Homo sapiens: one gene and its partners. The protein of the gene in region 5 interacts with the protein of the main gene of each other region in a pairwise test. Each region holds a gene or a part of one and is shown on either strand. Other genes may lie near its edges. The genes, in order: POLR3F, ZNF791, ZNF696, DPYSL5, WFS1, TLR10 and TUT7.

Region 1 (4,243 bases), on a different chromosome or scaffold from region 5:
AGCTTATTTCTTTTTATAACTGAATACTATTCTGGTTTGTCTATCCATTCACCTATTGAAGGATACCTTGGTTGCTTCCAGTTTTTGATTATGAATAAAGCTGCTGATTACGAATAAAGCTGCTATAAATATTCATGTAGTTATGTGGACATGAGTTTTCAAATCAGTTGGGTAAATACTTAAGAGCTTGACCTTTGGACAATGTGGTAAGACTCTGTTTAGTTTTGTAAAAACTGCCCAGTTTTTTAACAAAAGGACTGAAAATTTTGCATTCTTAGCAATGTATGAGTGTTCATCTTGGTCTGTATCTTGTCAGCATATGGTATTACCAATTTTTAGATTTTAGCTATTCTAATAGGTGTGTAGTGGTATCTCACTATACTAAATTTTATTTTAATTTGCAGTTCTCTAATGAAAAATAATGTAGAGCATCTTTTCATATGCTTATCTGCCATCTGTATGTCTTCTTTGGTGAGGTTCAGATCTTTTGCTCATTTTTAGTTGGATTATTTGTTTTCATTGTGTGTTTTTTTTTTTTTTTCTTTTTTTGAGATGGAGTTTCGCTTTTGTTGCCCAGGCTGGAGTACAATGGTGCAATCTTGCTCACTGCAACCTCTGCCTCCTGGGTTCAAGCAATTCTCCTGCCTCAGCCTCCCAAGTAGCTGGGATTACAGACATGTGCCACCACGCCTGGATAATTTTGTATTTTTAGTAGAGACAGGGTTTCACCATGTTGGTGAGGCTAGACTTGAACTCCTGACCTCAGGTGATCCACCCGCCTTGGCCTCCCAAAGTGTTGTTTTCTTATTGCTGAATTTTAGGAGTTCTTTGTATATTTTGGAGACAAGTCCTTTATCAAATATGTGATTTGCAAATATCTTTTAGTATGTAACTTGTCTTTTCATTCTCTTAATGTGTCTTGCAAAGCAGAGGTTTTCAAAAAATTTTGATAAACTCCAACTTATTAACATTTTCTTTCATAGACTACTATTGGAGTTATAGTCCAAGAATTCATTAACAAAGCCAAGGTCATGTAGATTTTCTATGTTTTCTTCAAAAAGTTTTATAGTTTTGCACTTTACACTGAGATCTAAGATTATTTTAACCCTTAAAAGGACACAGAAGTTCACCAACGGATGAATGAACAAAAGGTGATATACATCTATACAATGGAATTTTAATTGGCAATAAGAAGGAATAAAGCACAATATGGATAAATCTTGAAAACATCATGCTAAGTCAAAGTAGTCATACATAAAAGACTACATATTCTATTATTCCATTTATAGGAACTGTCCAGAATAGGCAAATCTATAATAAAGGCAGAAAATAAATTATTCGTTTTTAGGGCCTATGGAAAGAGAGGCTGGGAAACAAATACTAGTGGCCACATTTGGGGGTGATGAAAATGTTCTAAAATTAGAACAGCGGTGATGGTTGCACAACTCTTAGCTTATAGTAAAAACCAGTGACTGTAAATCCAAAGATTTTACACTTTAAAAGGTTGAATGAATTCTGTAGTATGAATGATGAATTATATTTCAGCAGAGCTGTTATTAAACATAAAGATGTAGAAGGAGGACTGACAAAATGAGGCTACATGATAGGGTTTTATTATATGATTTTTTCTACCTTTGTATATATTTGAAATTATCCATTAAACAATGTGGAAGGGAAATGCTATTCTGATAAATAAAATCACTAATAAGCATCAAATTCTTATAAGTGATGTTATAATTCTTATAATTCTTGTTTTATTCAAAAATAAAAACTTGAAGCAACATATGTAAGCGGATATTTGAGGAAAGGTCTACTCACTGCCACAGACCTAACAGCTCTGAAATTATAAAATTTGAATTATAGCTGTAATTCTTATGAAATGTGTATTGAAGCAAACTTTATTCTAGGGGAATCTCAGTTCCTCTGATGTCTAAATCAGTGAGGTCAGGGGCAGATGTCCCCGAGGGAGCCAGCTCTGGAGCAGGGGTGGGGCAGGATGAGGAGCAGGAAAAACACACGTGTACTAGAAGAGAAGCTCCACCAAGGCAGGGATCTTTCTACGACTTGTTCATTAATGTATCCCAAGCACTCAAAACAGTGTCTGGCACACAGCAAACACTCTTTGTTGAATGAGAAAGCTAATATGTCGGGATAAAGTAAATTATCTTACACACCACAAAATCTAGGAAAAATGTTCACAGTTCCAAAGATTCTTCACTGAAGACAGTAAAGTAGTTTTAGATTTTTGAGTGGGTGAGTGAGACACCAAGAGCTAACTGTGTAGGGACAAGTCTAAGCAGCATCTCCAAACCAATCCAACATGAGCTAAATTTTTAAGTCTTTTTTGACCAGCTGTTCTAAATCATGACATAACTTCAAGAATAAAAACTTGAAGCAACATATGTAAGTGGGTATCTGAGGAAAGGACTACTCACTGCTACAGACTTAACAGCTTTGATAAGCTTTTTACTTTCCAGATTCTTCAGAATTTTGTTGATTTCTGTTAATGGCAAATTACTTTTATAGCGGATATCTCTGCTCCATATTCCTATAAGAAAGTAAAGTAAAATAAGTTGAACTCTGGTTTTCATGGATTTTTAATGTTATTCCTCTAACTTGTGTCTCATTCCAAAGCTAGCAGTATAAAGCTAACAGTAAAGAATGCTGGCTAAAGTAGCAAAAGTATGCTAAACAATAAATAAGTATAATGCTTTGTAAGACTTATTATAATGATTTATAATTTCTAACTAGAAATTTCTTGGAATCCCAGTGTGGCAAACTTTTAAAAAACTTATGGAAAGGGCTGGGCATGGTGGCTCATGCCTGTAATCCCAGCACTTAGGGAGGCCGAGGCAGGTGGGTCACCTGAGCTCAGGAGTTTGAGACCAGCCTGGCCAACATGGTGAAACTCTGTCCCTACTAAAAATACAAAAATAATTAGCCGGGCCTGATGGCATGCACCTGTAGTCCTAGCTACTCGGGAGGCTGAGGCATGAGACTCGTTTGAACCCGGGAGGCGGAGGTTGCACTGAGCCGAGATCACACCATTGCACTCCAGCCTGGGCAACAGAGCAAGACTCCATCTCAAAAAAAAGAAAAAAAAAATTATGAAAACGACGTTTTTATAATGGAAGGAAAAATCATGGATGCAATGGAATTTTATCATCTGTACCCTTATCTCTGTTTTCTGATACTTTCATTTTAGATTGTAAATGTGAAATACAAACTTAAATTTGGGTCAAGGTCAACTGCCATCCTCAAGTGGGACAAAAACACTCTTTAGATGAGTGTCTGCATGCATGTAATCCATTATTTATACAACATTGTATTTGTGAGATGGAAAAGGAAGCCTAGGGTTCTTATGGCTGCTAAAAGCCCTGTGTGAGAAGCAATGATTTCTTTTTCAAAGAAGGAAATAAGTGTTATATATGGAAAGGGAATGTATGTAAATATTTTGCTTTATTTTCTTCCCAATGTAATGGCATATGAGATAGGAAGATTAAAAAAATATGCAGAATGGCTTTCTCATAGGACTATTTTTAAAAATGTTAATTTTAATAAATATAAGAATTAGTTATGTAATTTCAGATTACATCTCAATTTTTCCAGCTAATATCAATGACTCAAATAGATCCCAAATTATTGTAACTTAGGATTGCAATTTAGATACAGTTCTTCAAGCGGGTAGAAGAGAAACTATAGCTGCGGAGGGACATCTGTTAAGACACTGCTACACCACACCAGCTTTCCTTTTGGTCCTTGCAAAAACGAGAGGTGTCAGCATCCACAATTTATAGATAAGATAAAGAAACTGAAGCTCACAAAGTTTAAGTAACTTGTCCATGGTCATATAGCTAGAAGGTACAGATTTAAAAAAAAAACTTAAATTTTATTTATTTTGAATAGATAATACATTCATGTGACTCAGAATTCAGACGTCTTTTTCCATCCCTGGACACAGCCCTTTAGTTCTTGTCTCTTTCAAGGCAACAACGGCCTTACTCTTGGGTGTCCTTCAAGCACATGCATGTTATATTTGTATGTTCTATTACCTTCCTCAGTATACTCTGTCCACTGAGTTCTACCCTGGGAAGCTGAGATCTGGGTCCCTATATCTAGTTCCAAAGACAATGTTTTTTTCTGCTTCATCTTTCACATGCTTACCTTTATTTCCTGCATCCTCTATGATTTGATATACTAGTTTTTCTTGGTTATCGGATCCCTTCATTTTACTGTAGTGGAA
Region 2 (4,243 bases), on a different chromosome or scaffold from region 5:
CCGGCCATAACATTTTTAAGATTCTTTCAAGGAACACTGTTACTTCTTGTGAGTGCAACTCACCTTAGATTTCGTCCTTGGTTTTTGTGTTGATCTTCAACATTCGGGTCTTCCCATTTTTCCCCTAAAATGTAGATCAAGAATAATCATGATAAATTATTAAAAATTATACAAATATTATTAGATTATAGGTTCACAATGAGCTGTAACCATGCCTGGTTTATTTACAGAAGTGTTTCCTTTTCAGATTCCAAATCTCGGAACAGTGATTATGAGCAAGAAATGGCAGTTCTCTAACTGACGATATGAAAAAATGATGTCACTGGGGTGCGGTGGCTCATGCCTGTAATCCCCACACTTTGGGAGGCTGAGGCGGGTGGATCACCTGAGGTCAGGAGTTCGAGACCAGCCTGGCCAACATGATAAAACCCCGTCTCTACTAAAAATACAAAAATTAGCCGGGCATGGTGGTGGGCACCTGTAATCCCAGCTACTCGGGAGGCTGAGGCAGGAGAATTGCTTGAACCCAGGAGGCGGAGGTTACAGTGAGCCAAGATCCCGCCACTGCACTCCACCCTGGGGAACAGGACGAGACTCAAAAAAAAAAAAAAAAAAGAAGGCCAGGCACAGTGGCTCATGCCTGTAATCCCAGCACTTTGGGAGGCTGAAGCGGGCAGATTACCTGTGGTCAGGAGTTCAAGACCAGCCTGACCAACATGGTGAAATCCCGTCTCTACTAAAAAGAAAAAAATTAGCCAGGCATGGTGGCACGTGCCTGTAATCCCAGCTACTCGGGAGGCTGAGGTAGGAGAATTGCTTGAACCTGGGAGGCTGAGGTTGTGGTGAGCTGAGATTGTGCCATTGCTCTCCAGCCTGGACAATAGTGAAACTCTGTCCCCCCCCAAAAAAAAAAAAAAAGAAAAAAGAAAAAATGATGTCATCCTTACCTATAGATGCCAGGTTCTTGAATGTTTCCTGCATCACATCTCTGTAGAGTTTCTTCTGTGAAGGAGCCAGCAGAGCCCACTCCTCCTGGCTGAAGCTCACAGACACATCCTCAAAAGCCACTGAGTCCTGAAACATCCAATATAAGTAGAGAATAGGTGAGATTGACAAGGATGAGAGGTATCCTCAATTCATAAGAAATTCACACACGATTTTGTGGTCTCCAAACATTTAGTGCATGACTCAATTGTTAGAAATGTAACAGCACATTGAACACATAAACTTATAGCTACATCTTCACTGTGGTCACTGTAAGTCCTATTGCTCTCTAATGGTAGTATCTAGTTCAACTTAGAAAAATGAAAGAAATCCTACACAAATGAGACAAATTTTAGGATCAATTTTTTTTTCTTCCTTTTTGAGACATAGATGGTCTCGCTCTGCTACCTAGGCTGGAGTGCAGTGGTACAATCACAGTTCATTGGAGCCTAGTCCTCCCGGCTCAAGCAATCCTCCAACCTCAGCCTCCTGAGTAGCTGGGACTACAGGAACACACCACTACACCTAGGTAAGTATTTTGTGTATATTTTTTGTAGAGATGGGGTTTTGCCATGTTGCCCAGGCTGGTCTCAAACTCCTCAGCTCAAGCGATTCACTAGCCTTGGCCTCTCAAATTGCTGAGATTACAGGCAAGATCTTCAATTCTTTATGAGATAAATTCTTATTTCTTGTTTGTTTGTTTGTTGTTTTCTAAGAGACAGGGTCTTGCTCTGTCACCTAGGCTCAAGTGCAGCAATCCTAACTCACTGTAGCCTCAAATCCCTGGGCCCCCAAGACATCCTCCTGCCTCAGCTTCACGAGTAGTTAGGACTACAGATGTGCAACACCACTCCCAGATAAATGGGTTTTTTTTCTTTCTTTTTTTTTTTTTTTTTGAGACGGAGTCTCACTCTGTAACCCAGGCAGGAGTGCAGTGGTGCGATCTCGGCTCACTGCAACCTCCGCCCCTCCAGGTTTAAGCAATTCTCTGCCTCAGCCTCCGAAGTAGCTGGGATTATAGGCGCGTGCCACCACGCCCAGCTAATTTTTTGTATTTTTAGTAGAGATGGGGTTTCACCATCTTGGCTAGGCTGGTCTTGAACTCCCGACCTCGTGATCCACCCTCCTCGGCCACCCAAAGTGCTGGGATTACAGGCGTGAGCCACTGCCTCCGGCTGGGGTTTTGTTATATTGTCCAGGTTGACCTTTAACTCTCGGCCCCAAGTGATCCTCCTGCCCCGGCCTCCCAAAGTGTTGTGATAACAGGTATGAATAACCATACCCAGCCCACAGCCTAATTTCTTATTACCCAAATCATTCAGCATTCCTTAAGATATGGGATTAAATGAGGTGGAGGTTTTTTTTTTTTTTTTTTTTTGTTTGAGACAGTCTTTTTTTTATTATTTTTTTTATTTATTATTTTTTTTAATTTATTTTTTTATTGATAATTCTTGGGTGTTTCTCACAGAGGGGGATTTGACAGGGTCATGGGACAATAGTGGAGGGAAGGTCAGCAGATAAACAAGTGAACAAAGGTCTCTGGTTTTCCTAGGCAGAGGACCCTGCGGCCTTCCGCAGTGTTTGTGTCCCTGATTACTTGAGATTAGGGAGTGGTGATGACTCTTAACGAGCATGCTGCCTTCAAGCATCTGTTTAACAAAGCACATCTTGCACCGCCCTTAATCCATTTAACTCTGAGTGGACACAGCACATGTTTCAGAGAGCACAGGGTTGGGGGTAAGGTCACAGATCAACAGGATCCCAAGGCAGAGGAATTTTTCTTAGTGCAGAACAAAATGAAAAGTCTCCCATGTCTACTTTCTACACAGACACGGCAACCATCCGATTTCTCAATCTTTTCCCCACTTTTCCCGCCTTTCTATTCCACAAAGCCGCCATTGTCATCCTGGCCCGTTCTCAATGAGCTGTTAGGCACACCTCCCAGACGGGGTGGTGGCCGGGCAGAGGCGCCCCTCACCTCCCGGACGGGGCGGCTGGCCGGGCGGGGGGGCTGACCCCCCCCACCTCCCTCCCGGACGGGGCGGCTGGCCGGGCAGGGGGGCTGACCCCCCACCGAGGTGGAGGTTTTAATAAGTAAATACACATTGAGAATCTTCTATCCCCTTTTGTTATACATGAGAGGCCAGGAGGCTTGTGGAAATCCAACTTTTAAGAAGGTCTAGCTGCCTATATCGTCCTGAAGTATTTGAGGCCATCAGAAGCACTCAGATTCTGCTGACTGAATGGAAATACTCTTTTAGAGACGTATTAATTTCAACTTGTTTCCGATATATATATATCCCTATGTGTTGGCATTACAGGCATGAGCGACCACGCCCGGCTGTGTGTGTAATATCTATCATAGACCCAGTTTTTCCTTTTACTTTCTGTCCCATTTCGTGAGACTAGGAAGTTACTGGGAAGACAGCTCAGGCACAAGGAAGGGGCCCTCACAACTTAGACTTTCACAAAATCGTTATACCCATGAGCCTCAGAACTGCTTCCAACCAATTTTTAGCACAAATACATATACACATTGAGATAAAATGTCAGAAGAGCACTTTCTGGAAGATCCATAATCATGTCATCTGGGCTTTGCTGACCTTGAAGAATAGATTGACAGTATCAATTTTCAGGGGACTTCACTGATGTCCACAATGGTCTGATGGTGAATTTGCCCATGATTATAAAATTAACAGGTAATTTCATACCTCCAAAAGAACATAAAATCTGGGTCAGGATGGCTCATGCCTGTAATCCCAGCACTGTGGGAGGCCGAGGCAGGTGGATCACCTCAGGTCAGGAGTTCGAGACCACCCTGGCCAACATGGAGAAACCCTGCCTCTACTAAAAATACAAAAATTAGTTGGGCATGGTGGTGCATGCATGTAATCTCAGCTACTCGGGAGGCAGAGGCAGGAGAATCGCTTGAACCCGGGAGGCAGAGGTTGCAGTGAGCCAAGATCGCACCACTGCAGTCCAGCCTGGGCAACAGAGCGAGACTCTATCTCAAAAAAAAAAAAAAAAAAAAAAAAGAACATAAATCCCCTTTCTCCAGTTTCAGGAGGAAGTGATCCCAGACAGACACTCTAGGGGCTGTTGTCCCAGGTTCTCTCATTTCCATGCACTCATGTGCACCATACGTTAAAAGATCCACACAGTTAGAAGGGGTTTTCTTAAGTAATTAGGACTATGGTCTGAGCAGGAAGAAATTTGGCTCCAGGGAGCTCTCCCTCGTGACAAGTCCATCTGCATGCCT
Region 3 (3,761 bases), on a different chromosome or scaffold from region 5:
CGTGTGATCCGCCCGCCTCGGCCTCCCAAAGTGCTAGGATTACAGGCGGGAGCCACCGCACCCGGCCAAGTTCCATAATTTTCTAAGCACACAGAAGTCGGGACCATATGAACCGGCTGTGAAAAGGCGTTGAAATACATGGATGAACCACCGACCCGCAAGGTACGGGGGAGGACGCGAGGCTTCCATGCCCTGTCTGGGCGCCCCCTTCCTAACTGCCCCCCCACCCCGCCTTCACCAACCCGAAGCCCGAGGCCCTCATCTCATGCAGGGTTTTGATGGAGGCCTGGTTGCGGAGGAATGACCGATTCAATCACCGGCCACTGCCCCGCAGCAGCTGACCGTGGGAGGCGGGGAGTCTCAGAGGCGGGCGGCCGGCCCGGGACAGACCCCTGAGACCTCCCCGCCTCTGGGAATCGCCTCCCGCGGGCAGCGCTCGCCTTCCCCGAGCCCTGTCTCTCCTGATTGCTCCCAAGCCAAGGCGGATGCAGGCCTGGCGAGGCTTTCGCAACCCGAGAACCAGGCGCGCAGCCGGCTGTTACTTCCTCACCGCGCACGGGGCGGACAGGAGCCTCCCCCGGCCTCGGCCTCGCGCCCACCAGGCCGCCGGCATCTCTTCCGCCGCAGCCCCGGCTCACTCGGCGCCATGCACCCGCCGGTGCTGGATGAGGTGGAAGCTCAGGCGGAAGGCGCGGCCGCACTCGGTGCAGCGGAACGGCTTCTCGCCCGTGTGGAGTCGCTGGTGCCGGAAGAAGCCCGACAGCGCCCGGAACGCGCGCCCGCAGTGGCCGCACTGGTGGGGCTTCTCCCCGGTGTGGATGCGGCGGTGCTCGCGGAGGAAGGAGCTGCGGCTGAAGGCGCGGCCGCAGTCCTGGCAGGCGAAGGGCCGCTCCCCCGTGTGCACGCGCTGGTGCTGGAGGAGGTTGGAGCTCTGGCTGAAGGCCTGGCCGCACTCCCGGCACTCGTACGGGTTCTCCCCGTGGTGGGTCCGCCGGTGCCGGACCACGTTCGAGCTGTGCAGGAAGCGCTTCCCGCACTCGCCGCACGCGTACAGCCTCTCCCCGGTGTGGGTGCGGCGGTGCTTGGCGGCGTCCGACCTCTGGCCGAAGGCCTTGCCGCAGTCGGCGCACGCGTAGGGCTTCTCGCCCGTGTGCACGCGCTGGTGCCGGAGGAGGTTGAAGCTCTGGCCGAAGGCCTTGCCGCACTCGGCGCACGCGTAGGGCCTCTCCCCGCTGTGCGCCCGCTGGTGCCGGACCACGTGCGAGCTGTGGATGAAGGCCTTCCCGCAGTCGCTGCACTCGTACGGTTTCTCCCCCGAGTGGATGCTCCGGTGCTTTGCCGCGTCCGAGGAGCACTTGAAGCTGCGGCCACAGGCGCCGCACGGGAAAGGCCGCCCCTTCCAGCTGCCCCCGCCCTCTGCGCCGGGGCCTGCGTTCGGAGGGACGTCTGACTCGAGGCCACTCTGTCCTCCAGTTTTCTCAGAAGTGACCGGGCCTCGAGGGGAACCTCCGGGCCTCTCTCTGGCTTCCTGGTTTTCACAAAGGCCAAGAGACCCCAACGCCCGGGGAGGCCCCCCTCTGTGGCCCTCTCCCTCGGGAGCGCCTGCCTCTGCGGCAGGCTCCGTGCTCTGAGCTGCCTGCACCTCGGCTGACCGGCTGCCACTCGGGGCCTGCGCCAGGAAAGCAGCCTTCACAGCTGAAAAAGAGGCCAGACAGGAACGATTTTAGATGTAAGAGAACGTGAGTCGAGGGTGGCTCTGGCAATCGTGGTGACGACAGAGTGACAGTGATGGTGACGTCAGTGTGCCACAGACACCTTTGATTTTGCCCATTCAGTTCCCGCCTCGTTTTTTTTAGTTTTTTTCTCCTCCCCACCTTCTTAACCCCCATGGTTATGAGGTAGACGAGAATCCTGCACTGCCACTCCAGAAACGGGGCTGTGGGGCCGGATGTGGTGACTCACACCTGTATCTCCGCACTTTCAGAGGCTGAGGCAGGAGGACCACTTGAGACTTGGAGTTCAAGACCAGCCTGGCCAACATAGTGAGATCCTGTCTCTTAAAAAAATAGAATTTTAAAAATATACAAACAGAAACGAGGCTAAACGGGGCTAGAAACAGGGCTAAACCTCTAGCCTCGGCCCACCCAGTCCTGGGAGGGGAGGGGACAGAAACGCAGGCTCTGGGCACTGCCTTACTCTGCGGGACAGCTGGGAAAGCAAAGGAGGCTGGAGACAGCTGGCAGCAAGCCAGGACGGGAGCGAGGCAGATGTAGCAGGAGGCCCGGGGACAGTGGCACCCAACAGAGCCCACGGCCCAGCTCTGCCTTCTGTCTGTCCTTCCTTCCTTTCTTGTGAGCCAGGGTCTTGCTCTATCACCCAGGCTGGAGTGCAGTGGTACCATCATGGCTCACTGCAGCCTCAGGGCTCAAGTGATCCTCCCTCCGCCTCCCAAGTAGGTGGCGCACCTCCAGGTGAGCACCACCACACCAGGCTATTTTAAAAATTTTTTGTAGAGACAGTGTGTCAATGTGTTGCCCAGGCTGGTCTTGAACTCCTGGGCTCAACCCTCCTCCCACCTGAGCCTCCTAAAGTGCTGGGATTACAGGTGTGAGCCACCACACCCAGCCATGGCCCCAGCTCATTCCTTTTACCTTGGACTCCCTGAGACAACGCAGACTCCTTAACAACTGCCCCCAAACACCAAACTCTAAGGGCTTCTGTTATGTGCAAACAGGAGCGTCCTCACTCAGACAGAAATCCGGACCAAGAGGCCAGTCGCGGTGGCTCACGCCTGTAATCCCAGCACTTTGGGAGGCTGAGGTGGGCAGTTCACGAGGTCAAGAGATCAAGATTAGGTGAAACCCTATCTCTAATAAAAATACAAAAATTAGCTGGGTGTGGTGGTGCACACCTGTAGTCCCAGCTACTTGAGAGGCTGAGGCAGAAGAATCACTTGAATCCAGGAGGTGGAGATTGCAGTGAGCTGGCGCCACTGCACTCCAGCCTGGCGACAGAGCAAGACTTTGTCTTAAAAAAAAAAAAAAGAAAAGAAAAGAAATCCGGAACAAGAGCTGGAAGCAGCAACCCACGTCCCATGTGGGCTGGGCGGCGGCGGCGCTGGTCAGGCTGAGCAACCCCATCCAGGCTGCGTTATCAATGGCCCTTGTCTGGCAGTCAAGCCACTGGTTAGATTTGGTTCCACTGGCTCACAGGGACAGACCATGTGGCCATTTAGAAAAAAGGCTTAAGGGGTAGGGGTGAAACCCTGGGACATGAGAAAGCTGGCAACTGAGCTTGGCCTGCATAGGAGGCAGGAGGACTCAGCCAGGAGGGGCAGCAGGAGGAGGGGGGCCAACGAGGCCAGCACAGCAACTGAGGAGGACTTCTCAGTCTGCAGGCAGTCCGCTGTGGCAGCAGAGGAGAAGCGGCTGAGTCCCAGCTGCACCTCTCAAGAATGTGGAGGGCGCAGATAAGACGGAAGCTCCTGTGGAGGTGGGGGTGGGGCAGGGATGTTCCAGGGCAGATGAGAGCAGGCTGCTATCGACAGTCCCCACCTCTCTCTGCCCTTGCAGACCCCTGACACTGAGCAGCCAGGGGGCGGGAGGCGCTCAGGGCGGCCTGCAGAACAGAAGCCCCTTGGCAGAGGCCCAGCCCTGGTCTTGTGGTTTGCAGACTTGGAAGTTCAAGAACTGACTCAAAGGTATTGCTTATGAGGAAAAAGAACCAAGACTATGGTGAGAAGGGGACACATACGTGGTGGA
Region 4 (4,243 bases), on a different chromosome or scaffold from region 5:
TGGGATTACAGGCACACACCACCATGCCCGGCTAATTTTTTGTATTTTCAGTAGAGACAGGGTTTTACCACGTTGGCCAGGCTGGTCTTGAACTCCTGATCTCAAGTGATCCACCCACCTCGGCCTCCCAAAGGGCTGGGATTACAGGTGTGAACCACTGCACCTGGCCCCAAAAATGTTAATAGGAGAGAGAAAGAAGCTGCAAGCAGTTATTGGGATAAAACAGAAACCCTTCCATAATTGGGTCCCACTGAATTCAGACCGTTCATCAAACCATTTCCTTTAGATTGGGATTGCATGGGGAAAAAGCAGTGTCAGAAATAGAAGAGCTGGAGAAAGGAGATCTGGAGGAAGGGTGTGGGAAGGAAAGGGGGAGAAAGTGCAGAAGAAAAAGGGAAAGGGGAAGGAAAGGAGGAGAAACCCACAGAAGGAGGGATGTACAGACAAGGGGCACACGGGAGCCAACAAGAAGAGGGAGAGGTGAACAAAAGAAACAGAAAGGACCCCTACATTCTAGGATAAGTCACAGGCCACGTTCTGCAGCTCCCCACTGGGCTTTAGAGTAAGAGATCAATGTCCTTTGAAATTCCGAATAACCACGGTTCACAGTTCTATATGTGCTCTTCACTCTTATACTTCAGAAGATCTCACTCCATATCAAGCGGTCATAAAATCCCAATAGGATGGCAATTATCTGATGGGCTCAGAGAAGGTAAGAAAAGCACAATGATCCTATGGGCACAATGAAATCAAACCTAGCTCAGATTTGTTTCCTGGGCCCTCTATGACGTCTTCCTAAAGATGTACACATCCCTGCAATGTGCTGCTGAAACGCCTTACTTGGCCAGCAGGCTCATGAGGTAGGTTGAGGTGTTGGTGTCCAGTCTCAGGGGAGGCACCGTGACATAGGCAGCCGCGTGGGACCAGTCCTGGTGGTAGTAGTGTAAGCCTGTCAGCGTGGCATGTGCAGTGGTGGTCTCCGCCAGCACAACCTTCCCTGGAAGAAGAAAGGTCAGAACCATAACCAGGAAGCCACCGAACCTGAGCGATCGCTGGTGTGTGCCTCTCATTTTACAGGTGAAGGAGCTGAGGTCAGAGACAGGAAGGGACCTGCCCAAGCTCACAGGGCTTTTAAGAGCACAGCTGGGTTCAAGCCCAGAGAGCCTCCCTATTCTGCTGACTTAGGCAAGGAGGACAGAGGGACATGGGCACCGAGGCCCAGCAGGACCAAGCGGCACTTTGAGGAGTCTGGTTTGGCCAGATGACCAGAGCACTGGTGTGTGCAGGGTGCTGTTGGCAGATGGAGCTTGACGGTGGGTGAACAGGCATGCAGGGCCACGAATGCCACGCTAAAGAGCAGTCTAGACTGTTTTCTGGACAGGCAGTTGCTGTGAGCAGCTTCAAGAGAACGGTTGTGGTAGGACAGGGAGGGCCGTAGCAGGGCTGGAGGACAGGGAGACAGGAGGTGGGAGCAGTCACCAGGCTGGGACGACAGTCTAGGCGAGACCCTCCAAGGGGCTTCAGTGAGGGGAGAGGCAGGTGGCGGGATCTAGAGGGCGATAGAGTTGAAGGCCAGGATGCCCTTGCTTCTGATCGATTATAGTTGAAGGCTGAGATGCCCTTGCTTCTGATCTGTCTCCCCAGGCTTGTGACTGTGACTTTGTTTCTCCTGCTGCCAGGCCCTCACCAGCACCTGGGGCGGGGCTGGACTCCAAGCATCTGCAAGCCTTTAGGTACTGCCAGGCGATCCGCAACAGAAGCCATACAAGTGCCCCTCGGACTCATACACAGGGTTCCAGGAGGCTAAAAGGAAGCTGGGCCCACACACTGTTCTTTCTTTAGGGACTTCCCAAACAGCCCCTGAAATGCCCACTGAAACTGGTCCAGCATTTTATGTTAGTTGCCAAGGCAACTGCTAGTAAAATCTATGAGGCCAAAAAGACACTAATTAATGAGTGGGTTTAAAACTTGGAAAATGTTACCAGACCCAGGAGAAGTGACAGACACTTCCGTAAAGCTGTTATGCATACAAATTTGCAGAAGAAAAAGCTCATGTTCTAGCAGACTAAAGCCAGCATAGCACAGGGCAGCTCTGAGGAAGACGGTGGCAGATGAAAGGGAAGGGCTGGCTCAGGTCCTGGTTTCAGGAGCCGGGGCCAGGAGTGAGCACGGCTAATGGGCCCCATCCATCTCCAGTCCCTCCACTTGACCTGCTCTGTCCAGCCAAGTCTATGGACTCACCTTGCATCTTAGCAGCTGCGATAACGTCACCAGCCGAGATACTGGACACGTTGACCAGGTAGATTGGACAGTGAGTCTAAACACAAGAAACAGTGGGAAGTAGGGAGGGTTGACCCATAAACTTCACAAGCATCAGAATAACCCTGGCAAAGTCAGCCCTGGCACCAGCGCCTCCCCCTGCGTCACTCAACCCCACCCTCAAGGTGACAGTCCTTAAGCGGAGAATGCAGGGCTGGCAGTCAGGGCAAGGTTGCAGGAACTGCATGATACGGGGAGGCAGAGAACAGCCTCCAGCACCAGAGCCCACCGGGAAGCCCAGCCTGTGAAGTTCAAGACCGTCAAGTCTGAACCTCGCATTTTCTCCCATCTGACAACCATGACTGTAATTTAAAAGGGGGGAACTCTTTTTCCTATTTTAATTTCCTGTTCATAAACGTGATGACCTAGAGTTAGTCGTGTATTCTGTATCTAAAATTACGATGCCTGCTGTCTGAAGGCTGCTTATCAGTAGACAGAATGCACCCTGGAGATGAACAAAATACAAGGGGGTTAGGGTTCAGAGTCTAGGCAAGAGAAGGCTGACCTTGCGAACGGACACCTGGACTGTAATACTGGTTAGCTTTTTCTCTACTAAGCTGTGCAACCACGGTCCATGGCTTAACTCCTCTGAGCATATGCTTGAGCTAAAAGGCAAGGAACTGACTTTTTGTTGTTTGGGTCTTTCCTTATTCTGGGTTAAGTTCCACCAGGAAGTAATTGATAAATAACTATTGTCATGACAGTGAAACAATGTCCTTGTCCAGCGGCCAGAGCTCTAAAGTGCAATTGGGAAATTCTGTTTCCCCAGATGTTATTCTGTTCTCTTTGCTTATCACATTAGGAGGATGTAGAGTTTAGGAGCTGGACTGAGTTTACACGTGAGCAATGAACTGAGCTTCAGCAGGCTCGGCGGGGTGGAATGGAAAGCTGGTGGTGAGAAGGGTGAATGCAAGGATGGTGGGCATGACAGCGCTCAGTCAGCAAACAGCTCTGGGTTCCTGTGGGCAAGACATGGTGCTGGCACCCAGAGCAGAATGGGGCTGCATCGTAGAGGTTGGTTTTCTTTCTTTCTTTCTTTCTTTCTTTTCTTTCTTTCTTTCTTTCTTTCTTTCTTTCTTTCTTTCTTTCTTTCTTTCTTTCTTTCTTTCTTTCTTTCTCTTTCTTTCTTTCTCTTTCTTTTTTCTTTTCTTTCTTTCTCTTTCTTTTTTCTTTTCTTTCTTTCTTTCTTTCTTTCTTTCTTTCTTTCCTTTCTTTCTTTTCTTTTCTTTCTTTTTTTTTTTTTTTTTTTGACAGAGTCTCGCTCAGTCACCCAGGACAGATTGCAGTTGGCACGATCTTGGCTCACTGCAACCTCCGCCTCCTGGGTTCAAGCAATTCTCCTGCCTCAGCCTCCTGAGTAGCTGGGATTACAGGTGCACGCCACCACGCCCAGCTAATTTTTGTATTTTTAGTAGCAATGGGGTTTCACCATGTTGGCCAGGCTGGTCTCAAACTCTTAACCTCAGGTGATCCACGCACCTCGGCCTCCCAAAGTGCTGGGATTACAGACATCAGCACCGTGCCTGGCCAAGGTTGGTTTCTAATCCCACAGTGGACATCGGGGGACTTACCCTGTTTGCAATGGTGATAACACGATGAGTGGCTTCAGCTTCCAGCTGTTAGAAACAAAGGACAGGAGGAAACCAAACTTCACCATCTCCTCCAAGGATACCCACACCATACTCTCCCCTTCATGGAGCAACTGCACCCATAGGGGTTGGCTCGGGGCAAAGCCCGGGCAGAGGCACTAACCTCCAACTACCTTGGCTCACAGTGAGGGAGAATTCTAGGTCTTACAATACCAGGCACGCCCTTGCTGGATGCTACTTGGGGCTTAATTAAAAGGCAAGGAAACAAAAGTAAATAAAAACCCAAGGTCATGTCTCTCCTTGTTTTCTGGTGTATTCTCTCCATAGCCACCTCA
Region 5 (4,243 bases):
GCAAAGACACTCCCGAAATGAGAGTGAGGGTCACAGGTGAACGGGTTAACTTGGAGAAGACCCTTGGGCCAGGCGGCCATGGCCCAGGTGTCCCAGTTTATGCCATCTGGTGTAAGTACTATTATAATAATGCCTCCTTGCATATGCGTCCTGTTCGGAAAATTATGTCACCTAGTTATGGATGGTGAGTCTAGTGTTGTGTAGCATCTGAAAATCCTATTTATTTATGTTACTTAATGACAGGGTCTCGTTCTGTTGCACAGGCTGGAGTGCAGTGGCACGGTCACAGCTCACTGCAGCCTCAACGTGCCAAACTCAAGTGATCCTCCCACCTCAGCCTCCCAAATAGCTGGACTACAGGCATGTGCCACCACACCCAGCTGATTTTTTTGAAAACATTTTGTAGCGATGGGGGTCTCACTATTGTTATCTACGCTGGTCTCAAACTCCTGGGTCAAGCGAGCCTCCCACTTTGGCCTCCCACACTGCTGGGATTCAGGCGTGAGACACTGTATCCAGCCTGAAAGTCCTTTTTAGAAGGGAGAGATTTAAGCTGTTTTGACAAGAAGTAAACAAGACTCTGTTTCCCTTTAGTTTTGGATGCTGTCAGAGCACTTCGATTCCTTTGCAGTTTGTCTTCTTAGAAGTCTCTTGTGAGGGAGGCAATGAATCGTCACAAGCGTCTCCCAGGGCTGAGAGCTGTCCCACCTTTTAGTAGCCTTTTGTAGAACAAGGAGAGGTCTTCACTCAAAGTGAAAATGACAGACACCTCTTTGTGAGCCACCCTTACTCCCACAAAGAATGTTCCAGACTCCACACAGTTCTCTTCTGGAGCCTGGAGGTGCAAGCTGTCATCGTAGATAGAATCCTCTGAAAACAAACTTAATATCTTAAAATCGTAACATTTTTAACATTACATAATTGGAAGATCCGACACGGGAACATTTTTGCCCACAGGTTTGAGCAGAATCTCGTCTCGGCTCCCTTCCCCAGCCTGCCTTCTTCACGGGTCCGCTGGGCCATCGGTGTGGTGACGCTGCTTCCTGGTTTCTCGTGGCAGCAGAAGGGCCGATCACCACAGGCCCAGACAGAGAGCTCTGCAGTGTTCTATTCATAGAGGCAGACTCCTCATAGTTTTTAAGTTTCGTTCTTTTTCCATCTCAGGAGTTGAATTTGTTTGGACCTTCTTTGCAGAAAAGGAGACTGAACTTTTTAATCCCATGTCAGAGGAAGGTCTTGGGTGTACATTGCAGGGAGCAGAAATTGGGGCTTTAAAAAGGGGATCGTTCCCTGGTCATCGAGTTCAGGTGGGGGACCAGCCCCTCCACACTGTCCAAGCAGAGGCTAGACGCCATCCAACGTAATGTTCTAGAATATTCCTTGTCTTTTAAAGGCCCTCTCAACCAGGTGGTTGTGTGTGTTCTAGGCAAAAGAATGTGCATGGCTTTGAGTAAGACAGGATTTCAGATTTATTTTTACCAAGGCCACCCCCTTGCTACCGTGGCGGTCGTGCGTGAAACTGGTGGTGAGCAGTGGCGGGCCAGGCCACCTTTAGTTGTCCTGCTGTTCGCAAGGCCCCCATACGGGGATTAACTGAGCAGCCTGCCGGCTGACGCACATGTTGACTCGTGTAGCTGTTGATTTTAGCCAGCTGGCCTGGCGTCATACTACAGGGGCTTGCCCCAAACAAACCCTGGAGTAGGTTGGTTTTCATAAATGCCCTCTGGCTCTCTGGCAAGCGTTGGAAATGCCCTCAAACCCTGTAGTGCCTGGTCTTCCCTGGCCATCTCCTGGCAGTGTGAGCGCCTCTCTGCTCATGTAGAAGGTTGTTGACCCCAGAGAGAGCTAGGGGAGCTGTTAGCTGCTTTAATCGTTTATTTGCTTGTTATAAAACAGAGATTAAGTGGACTGTCACAAATATACATGAAGCAGCAGAGCTGTTCCCCCACGTGTAGACGTGCATGCACACACTCCTAAACACTTCCGTTTCTTCCATGAGCCTGTCCTTCTCATCTGTGGAAGGCTCAGTCTGTGTAGACATGCATGCACACACTCATAACACTTCCGTTTCCTCCATGAGCCTGCCCCTCTCCTCTCATCTGTGGAAGACTCAGTCTTCTGGTTGTTTCCAGGTGTCCTGGTCCTCCAGAGCTGATAGCCAGGCTGTTGGCAGGTGAGGGCCACATTCTGGTGTTGTCACCTAGTTGCCATTCACCTGGGATCCCTCCTTGGCCTTCTGGTGGGCCTGGTGGAGAGAACCTGCCCCAGGGGATTTGTGGGGTCTGGTGCTTCCCCGAGGCCCGGAGCTGATGGGGGGCTCCAGCCTGGATGTGTCATGTAGCCCCTCAGTGGGCCCTGGACATGCAGCCAGGCTTCCCTACCCCCATGTGGGGCCGCCCCCTAGGCGTCCACTTCCTGGTGTTGGTCCAGGCCCCTGGCACTTCTGAAGATGCACAGAACCTGCTTTGTATGCCACGCCATGCTGTGTGAGCACTGGCACCATGGCCACTTTGTCCCCCATCCCCTCCAGTCCCTCTGCCTGGCTGCCCTGTGTTCTGGCAGGGCTCAGGGCCTCTGAGTTCTGCACAGACCAGGAAGGCATGAGGGCTGGCCCTGGGTGGCAGCGCTGCTTCACCCCATCCTGAGGCTGCTCCCAGCATGCCTCCCTCAGCCCTCTGCTCCTCTTGGCTGTGGTGAAGGCCAAGAGCTCTTTCTGACCTTAGCGCTGCATGCAGAGCAGGGGAGCAGGACCCACAGGTCGGGGGAAGGCAGCCTTTGGCCTTGACTATGGGGAGGTAGGGGTGCGCTGGTGTGTATGTGTAGGTGCACACGTGTAGGGGTGGGTGTGCATGTGTGAGGGTGCACGTGTGGGGGTGGGTGTGCACGTGTGTGTAGGGGTGGGTTGCGTGTGTGTGAATGTGTATAGGGGTGGGTTGTGTGAATGTGTGTGTAGGGGTGGGTTGCGTGTGTGTGAATGTGTGTGTAGGGGTGGGTTTGAATGCAGGTAGGTTGCGTGTGTGTGTAGGGGTGGGTTGCGTGTGTGTGAATGTGTGTGTAGGGGTGGGTTGTTTGCGGGTAGGTTGCGTGTGTGTGAATGTGTGTGTAGGGGTGGGTTGTGTGAATGCGGGTAGGTTGCGTGTGTGTGTGTAGGGGTGGGTTGCGTGTGTGTGAATGTGTGTGTAGGGGTGGGTTGTTTGAATGCGGGTAGGTTGCGTGTGTGTGAATGTGTATAGGGGTGGGTTGTGTGAATGCGTGTGTGTAGGGGTGGGCTGCATGTGTGTGTGTAGGGGTGGGTTGTGTGTGTGTGTATGGGGTGGGTTTGTGTGAATGCGTGTGTGTAGGGGTGGGTTGCGTGTGTGTGTGTGCACGTGTGTGTACGGGCAGAAGGTGGCCTGGCAGCTGCTTCTCAGGGTCTCCGGCCATAGGGAGGGCAGCTCACCCGGCAGCCCCGTGCAGCTGAACGGTATTTTTGCTGGGAGAGTGGTGCTGGGCCCTCTGCCTGTGTCTGCACTGAACTCCCTTTCCCTAATGCTTGCTCTGCCACCCCTCCGGGGACTGCCTGCGGCTTCTCCTCCTCGTAAGGATCGCCATTTCCCTTCATGGAGGCTCAGGGAGGTGACATCCTTGCTGTAGTGCAGAGCTGGGTCACAAAACCAGCTCCCAGACAGGCATCTCAGGGCTCCGTCATCTCTTCATGTGGGTGACCCTGAGGGGAGGGAAGTGGGGAGCCCGTGGGTCCCTCCAGTGCTGGAGGTCTTGCAGGGAGAGAAGCACACATGCATCTAGTCACGCTGGTAGAAGGTGGGGAGCCAGGCACGGGGCAGAGGGGGGCTCCAGGCCCAGAAGAGGGAGGGCTCACAGGGACCGCGAGCATGGGGAGGGCCACCTGGAGAAGGGGGGAGGGAGGACCACTAGGATGGGGCTGGTGATGGGAAAACGCAAGGGTGCGGGTTCCTTTTGCCCAGAGGCAGGGTGGTCAGAGGGAGGCGTGAGATGGGAGCAGTGGGGGTCCTGTCCCAGCCTCGTTCCCACGTACCATCTTTCCCCCAGGTGGTCAAGTACCCCCTGCACGCCATCATGGAGATCAAGGAGTACCTGATTGACATGGCCTCCAGGGCAGGCATGCACTGGCTGTCCACCATCATCCCCACGCACCACATCAACGCGCTCATCTTCTTCTTCATCGTCAGCAACCTCACCATCGACTTCTTCGCCTTCTTCATCCCGCTGGTCATCTTCTACC
Region 6 (4,939 bases), about 32 Mb from region 5:
TCCTTGTATGTATGAATTTCAACGTTTTAATCCTTAGTACAACGTGATGCATAATATGCTCTCATAAATATGTGTTGAATGAATGAATTTATGTTGTGAATTCCTGATACAGTGCAGGGCATGATGGTTGAAGAATGAGTTTGGTAGGCCTGGCGCGGTGGCTCAGGCCTGTAATCCCAGCACTTTGGGAGGCTGAGGCAGGTGGATCACAAAGTAAGGAGATCAAGACCATCCTGGCTAACATGGTGAAACCCTGTCTCTACTAAAAAAATACAAAAAATTAGCTGAGCGTGGTGGCATGTGCCTGTAGTCCCAGCTACTCGGGAGGCTGAGGCAGGATAATCACTTGAACCCAAAAGGTGGAGGTTGCAGTGAGCTGAGATGCCACCACTGCACTCCAGCCTGGGCAACAGAGCAAGACTCAGTTTCAAAAAAAAAAAGAATAAGTTTGGTTTTAGTGATTGATGGATCTGTGTTCAAATCCAATGTTAACCATTCATCCACTCATTAGCTATGTACTCGGACCATTTATTTAATCTCTGAAAGATCTGGTTTTGTCATCTGTAAAATGGAGCTTGTGAAGAGGCATAAGACAATGTATGTAAGTCACTTAGTACCATGCCTAGCATATCACACTTAATAAATGGTGGCAGTTATCAGGTCAAGACTCGGGTGAAGCAAGGAAGGCATAAATGTTAAGGGGGTCCCAAGGAACTCAGTAATCAAGATAATGTTTACATGAAATATTTTTAAAAATGAAAATTAATGCAAAAATCTATGTTGAACAAAATATCGAAATTTTTCATAAAGACAGGATCAGTATTGCTGATTGTTTCTTTTGCCTCAGGCTCTATTATGGCTTGATAGGACCCTGGCAGTTATAATCATTAGGTTGACAAAGGTGCTTTTAATGTTATCCTCTCATAGAGTGCTTAATTTGTAGCAATTGACTTTAAGCTTCTAGGTCTTAGAGCCATGGCCCCTTAAGAATGCAGCAGAATCTAACCCAGTTGCTTTAGCTGGAACTCTGCGCTGAGAAGTCAGAGTTTCTATCTCTTACCCACTTCTTCCCCCTGCCCAATACCACAGTCTTATCTGGGACTACAATGGGAGAGGAACTCTTTTTGAACTTCTCTTAATATAACAATAGTAAAGGTCCTATCTCTCAGGCAATACTTATGCATTATGACATTTTATAAAAACAACTTTTACATAGAGACAGGGTCTCACTATGTTGCCAAGGCTGCTCTTAAACTCCTGGCCTCCAGCAATCTTCCCACCTCAGCCTCCCAAATGGGTGTGATTAGAGGTGTGAGCCACTGTGCTTGGCCTCATTAAAGCAATTTTAAAAGTAGGACATACACTTTTTTTTTTTTTTGAGATGGAGTCTCGCTCTGTTGCCCAGGCTGGAGTAAAGTGGTATGATCTCAGCTCACTGCAAGCTCCACCTCCCAGGTTCAAGCGATTCTCCTGCCGCAGCCTCCTGAGTAGCTGGGATTACAGGCACCTGCCATCACACCCGGCTAATTTTTGTATTTTTAGTAGAGATGGGGTTTCACCATGTTGGTGATGTAGTCTATAAATAGTATATATATGTTAATATCATATCCCTACTACTACGTTAAAAGCAGGTAAAAAACAGAGAATGACCTTCCTTAATACATCTTTAATATCTTATAATTTAAAAGTCCAAGTCAAAAGACATCATCAAATGACAACTAGTGTTTTACCAAAGAATATTTAATCATCTAATTTATCTTTTCCCAATGATATAAAGAAATAGAAAAGAGATTAAGAACCTATTGAATGTTGAATGATCTTTGCAACATAAGAGTAAGAATGACTTCTTTTCAGTATTTCCTACGTGTCTGACATGGAGCTAAGTGTTTTATGTCCATTACCTTGTTTAATCCCTCAATGACTCAACAAAATGGCGGCCATTATTATTCATATTTTACAGATGGAGGAGCTAAAGCCCAGAGGTAAAGTAACTTGCCCAAGATGACCAACTGAAGAAGCAGAGATTTGAACCCAGACCTGTCTGGTTCCTTCTGGATGGTAACTAAACCCAAATGCAAGGCACCTCAAACCTTGAAATGAGGTGGCTTAAGATGTAACGACATCCTAAGGACCGAATCACTGAGGTTGAATCCATTGATCTGACCAGCTGCCATGGCGGCCACTTCCTCCTTTCTCACCCCATGCCCCTGTCTATGAAGCTTCATGCAGCTGCTGTGGGACACTCTGCTAGGTGCCACAAAGTTCAAGAGACTTTGCCTACATGTATAAATATATTCTTAGGAAAGTTATAAGTTCACAAGAATTGAAATAAAACTCGAAGTGCATCCTATTCCTAATTAATAGCTCAGTGTAGGTGGTCTGGGAGAAAGCTTATCAAGAAACCAAATGCTCACAGGTTGTTAACCATCCTCTTCTTTACAGCAACCACATATGGCCCTCTTTGTCCACTTCTGAAGGAAACGGAATAAGAACTGCATTGTACAAGATCCATCAGATCTGCCCCTACTTTTAAACAGGTAACACAAATGCAGAACTTTTCAACGGGGTAAAGGAGCAACAAATATGCCTTAAATAGCCAAAGGTTTCATCCAGCAGAGGTTAACATACGCTGTGGGGAAATAAGAGCTAGAAAAAACTTGCCACAGTGCATAGGACCGTTCAATCTGAATAGAAGAGCTGACCAGGTTTGATCCGCAATCAGTGAAAAGAAACCCACGCTCTCAAGCATCTGCAAGAAATTCCTCAGATCAATAGCCCCAAGGTCACTAATCATTAATCTAGACAAAATAGTAAATACTAAAAATCTAAATAACCCTACTTCCCTCCCCTCAATATTAGCTCAAATTATCTCCTTTTTAGAAAATACCCATGCAGCCCTTATATCTTTTTAATGAGAGTTACAACAAACAAAGCTAAGGTTCTTACCCCACGGCTTGCACTCTCTCAGCAGAGCTGCAGGTGCGTGGATGATTCGTTGACACGGTCAGAATTGGCTGCAGGAGGGAATTGAATCGAGGTTTTCTGTAAAGCTTAAACCCCATCCGCCCTCTTCTGCATGCTACTGGTATTGCATGTTATATATATTCATTATAATCTTAGCACTTTTTTAAATTGTGGTCAAATACACATAACATAGGAGTTATCATGCTCACCATCTTTCTATTTTTATTTTTATTTTTATTTTTTTTGAGGTAGGGTCTCACTTTGTCACCCAGGCTGGAGTGCAGTGGTGTGATCACTGCTCACTGCAGCCTTGACCTCTTGCGCTAAAGCCCGCAAGAGGCTGGGCTTCTCAGTCCCGCAAATGTCTGGGACTACAGGCGCTCACCAACTGGCCTGGCTAAGTTTTTTGTATTTTTTGTAGAGACGGGGTTTCGCCAGTTGCCCAGGCTGGTCTTGAACTCCTGAGCTCAAGTGATCTGCCTGTCTCGGCCTCCCAAAGTGCTAGGATTACGGTGTGAGCCACCGCGCCTGACCTTAAGCATTTTTAAATGTACAATTTAGTGGCATTAATTAAGTACATTCACACTGTTGTGCAACCACCACCACTGCCCATCTCCAAAGATTTTTCGTCATCCCAAACTGAAATTCTATGCCATTAAAAAATAATTTCCCATTTTCCCCTTCCCTCAGACCCTGGAAACTATAATTCTACTTTCTGTCTGTGTGAATTTGACTACTCTAGGTACCTCATGTCCGTGGAGTTATACCATATTTGGTTTTTTGTGACTGGCTTATTTCATTGAGCATAATGTCTTTAAGGTTCATCCATATCATTTCTATTATTATTACATAGAATAATAGAATCTTTCCTTCCTTTTTTAAGGCTGAATACTATTTTGTTGTATGTACGTCCCACATTTTGTTCATTCATTCATCCATCAATGGACATTTGGGTAGTTTTCACCTTTTGGCTCTTGTGAATAATGCTGCTGTGAACGTGGTGCACAAATATCTATTTAAGTTGGTACTTAACATTCTTTTGAGTCTATACCTAGAAGTGGAATTCACGGATCGTATGACCATTCTGTTTAATTTTTTGCAGAACTACCATACTGGTTTTCCACAGCATCTTAGAGCTCTTTGATGATGCTTTTCTTCAAGGTGCAGGTCGGTTATCCCTTTCATCAGTTGGGTGGGGCAGTCATGTGATGATGGGCAGGAGTAGGAATGGTGACTCCATAATTTCAGCAATCAGGCAGGAAGAGGGTGGAAAGGAGTTATCTAGAGCAGTGGTCCCCAACCCCTGGGCCACAGACAGGTACCAGTTCATGGCCTGTTAGGAACCGAGCCACACAGCAGGAGGTGAGTGGTGGGTAAGCAAATGAAGCTTCATCTGTATTTACAGTCGCTCCCCATCGCTTGCATTACCACCTGAGCTCCACACCCTGTCATATCAGTGGCAGCATTAGATTCTCATAGGAGCTTGGACCCTACTGTGAGCTGCATATGGGAGGGATCTAGGTTGCGTGCTCCTTATGAGAATCTAATGTCTGATGATCTGTCACTGCTTCCCATCATGTCAGATGGGACCATCTAGTTGCAGGAAAACAGGCTCAGGGCTTCCACTGATTCTACATTATGGTGAGTTGTATAATTATTTCATTATATATTACAATGTCATAATAATAGAAATAAAGTGCACAATAAATGTAATGTGCTTGAATCATCCCGAAACCATCTCTCCTCCATCTCCAAACCCGGTCTGTGGAAAAACTGTCTTCCATGAAATTGGTCCTGGTGCCAAAAAGATTGGAGACCTCTGACCTAGAGGCCTTTTCTTGAAGTGAAGTGGTAAAATAAGCATGGTATTTTTTAAAATGTAGATCGCAAAGTACGGATCAATTTTTAAAGCAACATTTTTGAGGTTTTTTTCATACTTGACTTAAGATTTAGGTGACTGCTGGAGATCACGAGT
Region 7 (4,243 bases), on a different chromosome or scaffold from region 5:
AGAGCTCTTTCTACATGTTTTCCACATTCTTTCACGTCTTCATACTTAGCAGCTTCGCCTAACTCATCATCCTCTTCAGATAGGGCGTCCTCATCCCCTGACCCAGTGTAGGTGTTGTCTAACTCATCTTCATTAGCCATGCCATCTTCATCTTCCCTTTGGTTAATGGTGAGCCTAGGTTCTTCTTCCTCCTCCTCTTCTTCGTCGTCCTCCTCCTCTTCATCAGAGGGAATCATTTCTGATGTCTGGCCCTGTACTGAGTGGGTAAAGTGGTTTAGAGAGTCTTCTAGTTCCTCAGTACCTTCTGTACTTTCTCCATCAAGATCAGCCTTGTTATCTAAAGTGGCAAGTCCCTCACACTCTTTAGCTGTGGGATTTTGGAAGCCTTCTAAATCCAAAGTGCTCTCTGACTCATTATTACGTGTGCTGCCACAGACAACATGCTCTCCACGTTTCTGATCAACAGTCAACAGATGCTTGCCCTTCCTTCCAACTTTCTCTTTCTCGTTTTTCCTTCCTGTTTCTGGATGGTATACTTTATCACCCTTGTAATCATCAGAGTTAACATCTGCTTGGATACAGTCTGAGTTTTCAGGGTGGACACTGATGTGTTCATTTCCCATTTCTTCTTTTGGTGGGCTTCCAAAACTTTCAGCAGTCTCTTTAAGAGTAAGTGGCTGTACCTTACAGGTATTTGCAGCTGAACTGGTAGCACCAGGACCTTGGGCCAAAACTGAGTTTTTGAGCTTATCATCTTTTGTTTGTACATCTGGATGATGATTTATTACTTCTTTAGAATGTTCTGAAATACATGTAATTGCATTCAGAGGCTTTAGAAGGCTGGATTTTGTAATTTTGTGTGGAAGAGCAAAATACTTGTATGTTGTCCTTAAACAATGAAGTATATATTCAAACACAGGTTGACTATTTAGGGTTCTTGCCACATTTCTTTTAACAGAGTAGGGATCTGTAATAAAAAAAAGAAAGAAAGAAAAATCCATCTCTTCATATGTTACTATATTTCATGTTTTAAAAATTAGCCTGCTGCAGATAAAAACAGACAACAAACAATGGTAAAATTTATCTTGCATTTTATAGACTTAAAAAAAAACTGGGGGTGGGGAGTAAGAAAACAGAGTTTAAGAACAAAAAGCAGTATTTTCTGAAACATCGGCTCTATGAAGGGAACCCATTCTGTTCAGAACCAGTACCCCTTCTCCCTATTGTGCTCTGTGACTGTGGAGGTAGAAAAGATGTTATCAGCGTGGCTCTCAGGCCCTTGGGAAGGAAGATCTTCCCACCAGGCTCTGCTGCTGCTGAGTGCTCTGCCTCCCCACTCAGCCAGGCCCTGTGGTTTATCGAGCTTACCTCCACTCTTCTGCCCTGGGAAGCCCCATCACTGAATTGGCTGGACTGAATTTCAGGGGCGAGAGGGAGGCACCAGGAGGAGACACCACTTCTCTCAATCTTTTCTCCTCCCCTAGAACTCCAGCAGGTTAGGCAATTGGCCAGAAGAGCTGAGCCACAGAAACTGCAGGGGAGGGTTTAAAAATGTGAGATCCCCATGACTGCACACAGAATTTATGCAAAATGCAAAAAACCCTCTTATGCAACATAAAGCTTGAAAAAAAAATCAAGCAAAAATAAGAGAATTCCATTTAGGAGGTTCTTTAAATTATTTAAAGGAGGAGAATTAAGATTTCTAGAGGGGTTTCAACCTCCTGACTTTGCAAAGCTGAGAAGAGCTAGTCCATTTAATGATGTCTACAGGGCACATCAGTGTGTCTTTGATAAAGTGATTTCAGTTAAATGAGGCTTCACTAAAAATGTGTTTTTATGAATAAGTTCTAAATGCTACTGTAGATATGTCAAAAATAACTACTCATTCTCTCTACTGGAGAGGAATCCAATGGAGAATGACATTTTTGACGAGAAAAAGTATTGTCCTCACCTTTGCAAAACTAAACAACTTCAACAATCCACAAAAGGACTGAATTAAAAAATCCAGAGGTGAGAATGGTAAAGAGGAAAGGGGGATTTACACATCACTGTGAAAAACATACTTTAGGCATTTAAGTGGTTAAGCAATCTACAAAGAAAGCAAGGACTCAGCCAGCCATTATTCAAGTTGTTTATACTTTAAAAACCCAGGGTGAACAGTTTGATTCCTTGAAATGACCCACTGTTAACACATGCAAGATTCTAACTATTTATTTCCCTTTGAGGGCAGGCCTACCTTACTTGTAGGAGCTGAAAAGAGACTGAAATAAAAAGCATGCTGTTAGACTGGTACCTTTAAAAAAAAGAGTGGGGGGGAATAAGATAAACATTTTGAGATACCTTCAATGGCAATGCGCTTTTTGGGCCAATCCTTCAATTCCCGAGATACCAATTCTTTGACACGAATACTTATCACTAAATCAGCCAAATTAAATTCTAAAGCATAGAACCGCAGCAATTCCACCCAGAGCTGCCCAACTGGTACTGAAGGCTGGTGTTTCACATCCAATATTAATGACACCTATTAATAGCAAAGAGAAACATACAGGTTATTTCAGATGTAAGTACAATCTGGAAAATTAAAGATCATTTAAGCATCAAATTAAAAAAATCTGGAAAACCTTAACAAAGATATAAGCCTGACAATCCATCTAGATAAATCAATTCTAACTTCTATTTTGTTTGTGGTAAAACAGCATTACTTCACTGCACTATTAGGATTAGAGTATGCTATAATCCAGTCATTATCACAGGAATAGACAGGATCAGTTTTATTTAACCAGACAGAGCTCCTAATTTTGAACTGTTAATAACAGGTGGAGAGGACTGTGCATGGGTTGCTAATATTCTCAGCACTGAACTCTTCCTGTTACTGCTGCTGGAGGCACCTTTACAGTCACAGACACACAAAAATGGACAGTAGCTAAAGGCATAGAGAAAAAGGAAAAACACTCCTCTCACTGCCCTGAGAAGCTACATAAGCACATTGACTCTGTCAGTGACAACTGATTTTAAAGTCAAATAACTCTTGCCATCAGAAATTGACACTGGTTTTACAGTTACAGACTTCTGACAAGTTGGAACATAACTGCGATGTAATATATTAGAAAGTACATATTACTTAGGATAGGGGAAAATATGGGCCCAAATAGAGATTCTGCCACGTCATAGCTCTTAATTGCTCTGTGACTTAGCTTCTTCATTCTCAGACTGGTAGCACAGCACAGTGGCTAAGAGAACAGGCTTTGGAATTGGGACAAGCTTAGATCTGAAATCCAAACTCTGCCATGTACTAGCTGTGTATGATCTGGGTCAAGGTCTATAATCTGTCTAAGTCTGGGTTTCCTCATCTGAAAAATGGGGATAACAGTACCCACCTCATAGGGTTGTTGGGAGGACTGAGTGAGATAGTGTCTGTAAAGTGCTTAGCACAGTGCCTGGCACACAGTGTTCAAAAAATGGTCGCTATCATTATCTGCAGAGTAGGGATGATACCACCTATAACACAGGATAGTGATGAGGATTAAATCAGAAACAAGGGAAAGCATCTGGCAGACTTGGTTGCTCTCTGTATTTTTTCCACGTAGGTATAGCCTTTTTAAGTACAAGAAATCCATATATCACTGAAACACAATGTCACCACTGTAAGATGCTCTTAAGAGGTAATCTAGTTCAACTCCTGTATATTACAAGAGAAGGAACTGAAGCCCCACGAGTGCCCATGGCTTGTCAGAAGGTTGCACTGCCTGGCAGTGGCCGGATGAGAACAATGTCTCAATGTCTCCTGATCTCAGTACAGTGCACACCATATGCAACCCCATAATGTCTGAAGCTCACTTTATTTCAGAAGTGGCAGCATGATTAATCTTTCCAAATAACATAAAAATGTAAAAATAAAGCATTAAATGGATTTACAGCAATAGCTTTTCCTATAATTCACACTGAAAAAAGTAATTTCCTCTAAGGTGCACAAATTTGTTTTCAATCATACTTTATTATATTAAGCTTCAAAATCAGTGGTCTATTTTTCTCAATCACAAAGGTTCTGTCAAGTAATACAAAGTCATCTGGTGGCTTTACAAGGCAGAACTGATTAAAAATGGAAGTTGTCTAAGTCCCAAACACTACAGTTTGAGGACACAAATAAACCCCCCAGAAATTTTAAGCATTATTACATTTTACCTCTTTATCCATAGCGGCATTACAAAGGATTTTTAAGCATCTCACTGAAATGACTTGATAA

The links.
Region 1: the proteins of WFS1 (region 5) and POLR3F interact in binary tests that used the Homo sapiens proteins (3 or more experiments, as listed by UniProt).
Region 2: the proteins of WFS1 (region 5) and ZNF791 interact in binary tests that used the Homo sapiens proteins (3 or more experiments, as listed by UniProt).
Region 3: the proteins of WFS1 (region 5) and ZNF696 interact in binary tests that used the Homo sapiens proteins (3 or more experiments, as listed by UniProt).
Region 4: the proteins of WFS1 (region 5) and DPYSL5 interact in binary tests that used the Homo sapiens proteins (3 or more experiments, as listed by UniProt).
Region 6: the proteins of WFS1 (region 5) and TLR10 interact in binary tests that used the Homo sapiens proteins (3 or more experiments, as listed by UniProt).
Region 7: the proteins of WFS1 (region 5) and TUT7 interact in binary tests that used the Homo sapiens proteins (3 or more experiments, as listed by UniProt).

The regions. Positions count from the first base shown.
Region 1 is NC_000020.11:18,473,380-18,477,622, reverse strand, and holds part of POLR3F (DNA-directed RNA polymerase III subunit RPC6), read right to left. Parts: intron 4,233-4,243; coding exon 4,165-4,232; intron 2,549-4,164; coding exon 2,436-2,548; intron 1-2,435. UniProt on the Homo sapiens protein: DNA-dependent RNA polymerase catalyzes the transcription of DNA into RNA using the four ribonucleoside triphosphates as substrates.
Region 2 is NC_000019.10:12,620,531-12,624,773, reverse strand, and holds part of ZNF791 (zinc finger protein 791), read right to left. Parts: intron 1,075-4,243; coding exon 948-1,074; intron 125-947; coding exon 64-124; intron 1-63. UniProt on the Homo sapiens protein: May be involved in transcriptional regulation.
Region 3 is NC_000008.11:143,293,674-143,297,434, reverse strand, and holds part of ZNF696 (zinc finger protein 696), read right to left. Parts: intron 1,696-3,761; coding exon 635-1,695; 3' UTR 1-634.
Region 4 is NC_000002.12:26,931,332-26,935,574, reverse strand, and holds part of DPYSL5 (dihydropyrimidinase-related protein 5), read right to left. Parts: intron 3,936-4,243; coding exon 3,891-3,935; intron 2,318-3,890; coding exon 2,242-2,317; intron 998-2,241; coding exon 841-997; intron 1-840. UniProt on the Homo sapiens protein: Involved in the negative regulation of dendrite outgrowth.
Region 5 is NC_000004.12:6,296,607-6,300,849, forward strand, and holds part of WFS1 (wolframin), read left to right. Parts: intron 1-4,050; coding exon 4,051-4,243. UniProt on the Homo sapiens protein: Participates in the regulation of cellular Ca(2+) homeostasis, at least partly, by modulating the filling state of the endoplasmic reticulum Ca(2+) store.
Region 6 is NC_000004.12:38,779,975-38,784,913, forward strand, and holds the start of TLR10 (toll-like receptor 10 isoform a precursor), read right to left. Parts: upstream 3,017-4,939; 5' UTR 2,947-3,016; exon of another isoform or gene 1-2,946.
Region 7 is NC_000009.12:86,322,994-86,327,236, forward strand, and holds part of TUT7 (terminal uridylyltransferase 7), read right to left. Parts: intron 2,522-4,243; coding exon 2,341-2,521; intron 1,532-2,340; exon of another isoform or gene 1,369-1,531; intron 968-1,368; coding exon 1-967. UniProt on the Homo sapiens protein: Uridylyltransferase that mediates the terminal uridylation of mRNAs with short (less than 25 nucleotides) poly(A) tails, hence facilitating global mRNA decay. Essential for both oocyte maturation and fertility.